Linked DNA regions of Homo sapiens. The protein of the gene in region 2 interacts with the protein of the main gene of each other region in a pairwise test. Each region holds a gene or a part of one and is shown on either strand. Other genes may lie near its edges.

Region 1 (3,752 bases), on a different chromosome or scaffold from region 2:
AGATTATTAATATAGCCCCTGACTACTGAGAATGGTATCATAAAAGAGGACCTACTTACCTTTCCTAAATCATCCCTTGATCCCATTATAGCAAAAACTTTAGCCTTGACGTACCATGAAGGCTATCACATGTAACACACGGTAACCTGGGTTGTATCTTACAAAGACCTAGAGAAGAGGCAAAGCTTGAAAGACAAAGAGTAAGCAGAACTAAATTCTTCCTCGAGTGTAGTATGCTTAGAACCTGCTGTAGGCAAAATTGGGAATTTAGCAGGTTGTCCTGGATGTCTTCCCTACTTGGCTGGTGAGGTATACCTCAAACTTTTAGTGCAGAGAGACCTCAAATCTATTATTTCCTTTTCCATGCCCTAATCAAACCCTGTTCTCCAGCAGAACCAAATGTCAGTCACATATACCACATTTAAAATTGCTTAGAATAGATAGGCTGGGCATGTGGTTTATGCCTATAATTCCAGTGCTTTGAGAAGCCGACGTGGAGGATCGCTTGAGGCAAGGAGTTTGAGACCAGCTTGGGCAACATAGCGAAACTCTGTCTGTCCAAAAAATTTTAAAATTAGCTGGGTATAGTGCTGCATGCCTATAGCCCTAGCTACTTGAAAGTCTGCAGAGGAAGGATCTCTTGAGCCCAGGAGTTTGAGGCTGCAGTGAGTTCTGATCATATCACTGCACTCCAGCCTGGGTGACAGAGTAAGACCCTGTCTCTAAAAAAAAACTAATAATAAAATAAAATGCTTGAAGGAGTGTCTTACTCATAATAAATGCTATATATTGGCTATTATTACTTTTATCCTATCACTTGCATTTGTATTTTAAGTCTCTCTAATTTAGATGGAAAGGTTTTGTCTGTATTACTGGAATTTGAAATATCAGTGAACAGATGTTGAAGAATATTTTGGGAGACTCCTGAAATAAGACTTTGTAGGCAACCACCTACTCACCAAGTCTAGCATGCTTTTTCTACTAAGGGCTGCACGCCCAGGCAGAAATTATCAAGCTTTCTTTGAACACCAAAGAAAGGTACACCTACTTGGCCAGCTGTGAAGGATTTTATATGGCTCATATGTGCTCAAACATCTATTTGCTGGATTCTAATATACATGTTAATTCAATCAAGATTGGGGTATCTACCCATGAGGGAGGGGAACTGAAGCCACCCCATGGAGATAATTCTACTCCCTTGGCCCAATCCTCATGCCACCTACCCTACTTCACCACATTTGCTGATTCGACATTTTATTCTTCTGCAATTATTTACTTCCCTGCACAAAAATGGAAATCTAAATACCATGATGGTCTCTGTGACAAAAAGTGAAAGGAAACTAACTGTTAGGAATAAAGGGAGATGAACATGCATTGACAGCTCTAATTATATAGATTGCTTATTTGTTTGGTTGTTTCTTAAGTGTTTCAAAACTCTTTCAGAATAAAAGTACTAGGCAAAAGGGGCATATGCCATACAGATTCAGAAAACTTGCTCAAGAAACACCATCATGTTTTTCCACCTCCCTACCTTCCCAGTGACATGTCACTATGACCTCGGTCTCCTGCTTTGCCCAGACTGCCCTCCACCTCGGAACAAACTGCTAGTACTGAGAGACCTCAAATCTATTATTGAATCCTACTCTCATTAGGCAAAAGAAAAAAGACTTCAGATGAAGAATTATGCAATACAAATCAATTGGGAGCCCATCTATCACTGGTCTTATTCCTGGAGAAGTCTTAGTATAATAGATAGAAGAACTCCACTCTTGAAATATTATTTTCCCTTTAGTCCTCTCTCTTAAACTGGGAAAATTCAAAGTCCCCACCATAATAAAGAAATAAGAGGGTTTTTTTTCTATTTTTCCCATTTCCCTATTCACTGCCCTTCCCTCACATGAGCTTGCTAAAGTTCATAGTCAAAATTCACGTCTGAAATAAAGAGGCTTGCAAAAGAAGCTCATGTAATCCCACTCCTTAAATACCACTAAGACACGTGAGATATTGTTTAGATTGTGGACTCTTACTTTGACATGCCAGCATAGGTAGATGGACAGGCAAGCACATCAGATGTCACTGTTTGGCAGCTGATAAAAGTCAGTGGTGCTATAATACTAAGCACAGAGCCACTAGATTAGTCTGTGAGGGAAGGAGATGCCTCTTCCTTCCCTTCAATAGTGGGTTAAACCCAGCTGGCACCCTCTGGAACTACGGGTAAGTCCCTTCTTTATTCCTACTACACTTTTAGGTCTTGTTTTTGTTTTTTGTCCAAATCAGATGAGTGTATACAAAGATGATTTTCAGATAAAAAGTTTGAAAGCCACAACATTATAATGGTATTACACAAAAATTTAAAGAGAAAGCGACTCATTCATTTCATTGAGACTGGAAGGCATTATACAAATGATAGAAGGAAAGATAGCTGTGTGTCATTATTTTTAAATCACCATTTTTCCTTGAAAAGGGACACTTGATCTGATGTAATTGTGGTGATGTCTTATGAACGCAACATATCCTCTATCAGTCTTCTGTGCAAGTCTATGCTATATTAGAGACAGGAAAAAAATGTTAAGATTTTTTAAAAAGGAGACTGAATAGTACTTTATTTATAAAAATCTTTGAAATTCATTTAACATTATTTGGAATAAAATGACCCTGTCATATAACAGAATCTATTATAGAATTAAATTGTTGAACAGTAACTACAAACATAAAGAAAATACAGGATCACCTGCGTAAATGTCTGCATAAAATTTTGACACATGGATAAAATGAAACTTATGAAATAACATATTTTTAATTGGGCTTTTAAAAATATCACTAATTATTAACAATGTAGGCCAATATCAACATGTACAAGACAGTTGCCATTCTGAAAATATATGTAAAGAAAAAAAGAGAACTGTTTCTGGAAAATATCTACTATTTCATAAGCGGTTTATTCCTTGCTATCTGAAATGAGTCTCAATAATGTACCTGCCCAGAAAGAAATTTAGGAATCAAACTCTGGATTCAATTCTGCAACAGACTGAATAAACCGATAACTACAAAACTACTTGCCTTGAAATAGACTTTTTTTTTAGATCTACTCAAGGCCCTCCTTCAGGATGTTTTTCCCCAACAATTTAAATGCCTAAAGTAGTTCATTTCTAAAATGCATTCTAGTTTAATGTATTTGTGTTCATAAACTTGAAATTAAGGAATATTTAACTTTTTAAGTATTCTTTCTCAATAGCGTCTTTCTCTTGGCTGTTTAGTTGCATTTCTGTTTTTTCCTAAAATTGCTAGTTTTAATTTAACTCTAAACTACATAGGCAACTTTGAAATACTATTTTTTGAAGGTATCCTATTATTTAGGATGAAACTCTTTGGTCTGGAAAAGTTTTATTAACATTTTATCCAAGACAGTAACTAAAATAATTAGAAGACTTCGTTTCAATGATGACAAACAATTTGGTTAATTTTTCAGTTAAAAGTTTGATTTGTCATTATCTCAGTATTGGCTTATACCAGATGAAACAAAATAGGCAAATGTATTTTGAATCAATTTATCTGATATTTTCAATGAAAACAGGATTAGTGTGAAAACAATTTATAGGACTAGTCTTTGTGTGTAATGTCTATATATAGTCCCGCTTAGGTTTACCATACTAATGGAAAAAAAATCAGAGACAAATATAATCCTTCAAGGTTGATTTTCATGGCAAATGTTTCATCTGAGAAAAAATGAGGATGTACTGTAGGAAGGCAGG
Region 2 (3,752 bases):
CGTCTGCAGAACTCCCCTGCCCTCTGCAGACCCAGCTGCCCGGGCAGGTCATGTCTTCAAATATTGTATGACTTGGGACTGCTGAAATTGGAAATTTTTTCCCTTATCTAATTTCCCATCTTTTTATTATTTCAGCCACAGTGTCAGAAATACATTTCATTTTTGAAAACATTTTATTTTCACATTTTATTAATTTAGGAAGGCCTTCTCTTCCAGGCCTGGGACCCACATGAGTGAGGTTTGCCCAGCCTCAGTCTGCAGTCAAGTTCATTTATTCTTGTGTGTGTTTTCTTAGCAAGTTCCTAGCCATTTTCCCATGTTGGTCTGGCTTCCCTGTGGGCATTTCAAAGGCAGGGAAGGCCTCCTCCTCCGAGGCTCCTCAGCATCAGGGGGACCCATCAGGGCTGGTGGGCAGGGTCTAATGTCCTTCTCCTCACAGGGAGCCCGTTCCGCGTGCCAGTGAAGGATGTGGTGGACCCTGGGAAGGTGAAGTGCTCAGGGCCAGGGCTGGGGGCTGGTGTCAGGGCCCGGGTTCCTCAGACCTTCACAGTGGATTGCAGTCAAGCTGGCCGGGCGCCCCTGCAGGTGGCTGTGCTGGGCCCCACAGGTATAGAATGGCCGGGGCAGGGAGGAGGGAGGTGGGGCGGGACGCCCGGAGGCTCTGCTGACCCTGTGCCCCTTGCCCAGGTGTGGCCGAGCCTGTGGAGGTGCGGGACAATGGAGATGGCACCCACACTGTCCACTACACCCCAGCCACTGACGGGCCCTACACGGTAGCCGTCAAGTATGCTGACCAGGAGGTGCCACGCAGGTGAGGACCAGCCCTGGGCTCCTGTGCTGCGGCTGAGCTCTGGGGTGCTCCTGCTGGGGTGGCACTCAGGATCACTGCTGGAGTCCCCTGGGAGAGCCTCTCCCAGCTCTCAGCCTCGTCCAGTCTCGCCACCCCATCCCGCTCTTCCCCGGGGCTCTCTGCTGTGAGGCTTTCCTGCCCCAGGAGCTTTTACGGCAAACCTAGCGCCTTAGGAAGAGTGCAGGAGGCCTGGGCCAGGGCCTCCTCCTGGACCCTCCCACAGCACCTTCCTGGGGAATGGAGACGTACCCTGGCTCTGTCGAGGGAGTCCCAGAGTGCCCCCACCCCCAGACATGGAATGTCATCGGCTTCTGGGAACTGGTCCCTCCTCCCTGCCCCACAGTCCTCCCTCCTGCCCATGTCTATGGGGAGGACTCTGGCTCAAGATGAGATCACCCCCCACCGCCCCGTCCATGCCACCCAGCCAACTGTTTATCCCTTCTGCTCCTCAAGCCCCTTCAAGATCAAGGTCCTCCCAGCTCATGATGCCAGCAAGGTGCGGGCCAGCGGCCCAGGCCTCAACGCCTCTGGCATCCCTGCCAGCCTGCCTGTGGAGTTCACCATCGACGCACGGGACGCGGGCGAGGGGTTGCTCACTGTCCAGATCTTGGTGAGTCTCTGTGCATCCCACCCCGCAGGTCATGCTCCAGGCACAGGCGGGCCTTGACCTCTGCTTCTCCCTCAGGACCCCGAGGGTAAGCCCAAGAAGGCCAACATCCGGGACAATGGGGATGGCACGTACACTGTGTCCTACCTGCCGGACATGAGTGGCCGGTACACCATCACCATCAAGTATGGCGGTGATGAGATCCCCTACTCGCCCTTCCGCATCCATGCTCTGCCCACTGGGGATGCCAGCAAGTGCCTCGTCACAGGTGGGTGCCCACCCGCTGCCCGTGCCCTGCTCACCACCCAGCCCCTCAAAGCCCCTCCAGAACCCTGGCCTGGTCCCCAGGGGTCTGCTGGTCGGAGAGCACACATGCCCTAGCCCTGGCCCCTCCCTCCCTCACCCCCGCCCAATGCCCCAGCCCACGTTGAGCACCGCCTGGCCTCACACTCTTCTCTCTTTCCAGTGTCCATTGGAGGCCATGGCCTGGGTGAGTGCCCTTTCTCTCCTCTTCTTGGTGTGGGCCAGGGTGGTTGGCGGTAGGGGGCGGGCAGCGGGAACAGAGAGGGCTGGCTCCAGCCCACCAGCTCCCTGAGCAGGATCTCCCGCATGGCAGGTGCCTGCCTGGGCCCTCGAATCCAGATTGGGCAGGAGACGGTGATCACGGTGGATGCCAAGGCAGCCGGTGAGGGGAAGGTGACATGCACGGTGTCCACGCCGGATGGGGCAGAGCTCGATGTGGATGTGGTTGAGAACCATGACGGTACCTTTGACATCTACTACACAGCGCCCGAGCCGGGCAAGTACGTCATCACCATCCGCTTCGGGGGTGAGCACATCCCCAACAGCCCCTTCCACGTGCTGGTAAGTTCTGTAGCCACAGCAAGACTAGATGGCTGGGGAGGGGGGCCTGGCCCTTTTAGCAGCAGCAGGGATCCCAGATAACTGTCCCCAAGGAATCCCACTTCTCTGAGGGCTCCTGGGGCCAGAGTGCTCCAGGATGGAGCCTTAACTTTCCCCACAGCACCCCCGAAGTGGGAGGAGAGCATGGCCCTGCCCCCTGCCCAGTGCTGTCAGCTGTCTCTGGAGGAACCCGCTGTGCTCTCCACCATCCCCAGCTCCATCTCCCCAGAGGCTGCCCTGCAGGAGGATGAACACCCAAATTATCACCCAGCATTTCAGGTTCCTGGGCCATTCTCTGAGTCAGCCCCTAGGCCTGTGAGGCTGCCACACCCTGTGCCCCCGTGCCTTGCCTCCCCAGGCGTGTGACCCCCTGCCGCACGAGGAGGAGCCCTCTGAAGTGCCACAGCTGCGCCAGCCCTACGCTCCTCCCCGGCCCGGCGCCCGCCCCACACACTGGGTACTGCGCCTCCCACCAGGCGATGTCCTCCTCCTCCTCCCCTTCCTTCATTTCTTCTCTCTACTCCTCTGCAGCCAGGGCGGGGACATGGTCTGGGGGCCTCTTGGGGAGCAGGCAAGAGTTAGGCTGGGCAGATGGAACCCCACTTGGGCACAGCACTCCTTCTCTTGCAGCTGACGCACCTCTCCTGCCACGCTGGTTTCATGATTAACTACCTTGTTCTTTCCTCACTCTCCAGCTTCAGTCATAGCATGGGTCAAACTCCTGGGCCTTCCCCAGTCACTGACTGTTCCCTCTCACCTGCTGCAGGCCACAGAGGAGCCAGTGGTGCCTGTGGAGCCAATGGAGTCCATGCTGAGGCCCTTCAACCTGGTCATCCCCTTCGCGGTGCAGAAAGGGGAGCTCACAGGTACTGCCCTGTGGCTCCCAGGCATGAGGGCTGAGGGGAGAAACCCTCTTCCAGGCCCAGTCCTGTGTCTTAATGATGAAAACAAAGGCCCAGAGAGAGGAAGTGAGCTCTACCCAGGGTCACACAGCAAGTTGGGCAGAGCCAGAACTCAGGTGCAAGCCATCTGTCCCCAGTTCAGGGCTCAGGCCACTGCCACAGGCTGTCTCTTGATGCCTGGCTTCTCGGGTGGCAGCAGAAGCACTCAGGACCAGGCCTGGGACAGCAGGGAGGTTGCAGTGGGGGAAACCAGGGTCTCCACGTAACTGTGTCTGCCCTGCAGGAGAGGTGCGGATGCCCTCGGGGAAGACGGCACGGCCCAACATCACCGACAACAAGGACGGCACCATCACGGTGAGGTATGCACCCACTGAGAAAGGCCTGCACCAGATGGGGATCAAGTATGACGGCAACCACATCCCTGGTGAGTTAGGGGCTGGGCTGGGCTGGGGCTTGGGTGAGAGGAGCAGGCCGTAGCTTCAGTCCTGCC

The links. The genes of interacting proteins can lie anywhere in the genome.
Region 1: the proteins of FLNC (region 2) and MYOT interact in binary tests that used the Homo sapiens proteins (3 or more experiments, as listed by UniProt).

The regions. Positions count from the first base shown.
Region 1 is NC_000005.10:137,865,740-137,869,491, forward strand, and holds the start of MYOT (myotilin), read left to right. Parts: upstream 1-2,120; 5' UTR 2,121-2,214; intron 2,215-3,752. UniProt on the Homo sapiens protein: Component of a complex of multiple actin cross-linking proteins. Involved in the control of myofibril assembly and stability at the Z lines in muscle cells.
Region 2 is NC_000007.14:128,847,258-128,851,009, forward strand, and holds part of FLNC (filamin-C), read left to right. Parts: intron 1-439; coding exon 440-607; intron 608-687; coding exon 688-811; intron 812-1,303; coding exon 1,304-1,460; intron 1,461-1,535; coding exon 1,536-1,725; intron 1,726-1,923; coding exon 1,924-1,947; intron 1,948-2,073; coding exon 2,074-2,321; intron 2,322-2,718; coding exon 2,719-2,817; intron 2,818-2,904; exon of another isoform or gene 2,905-3,126; coding exon 3,127-3,226; intron 3,227-3,545; coding exon 3,546-3,686; intron 3,687-3,752.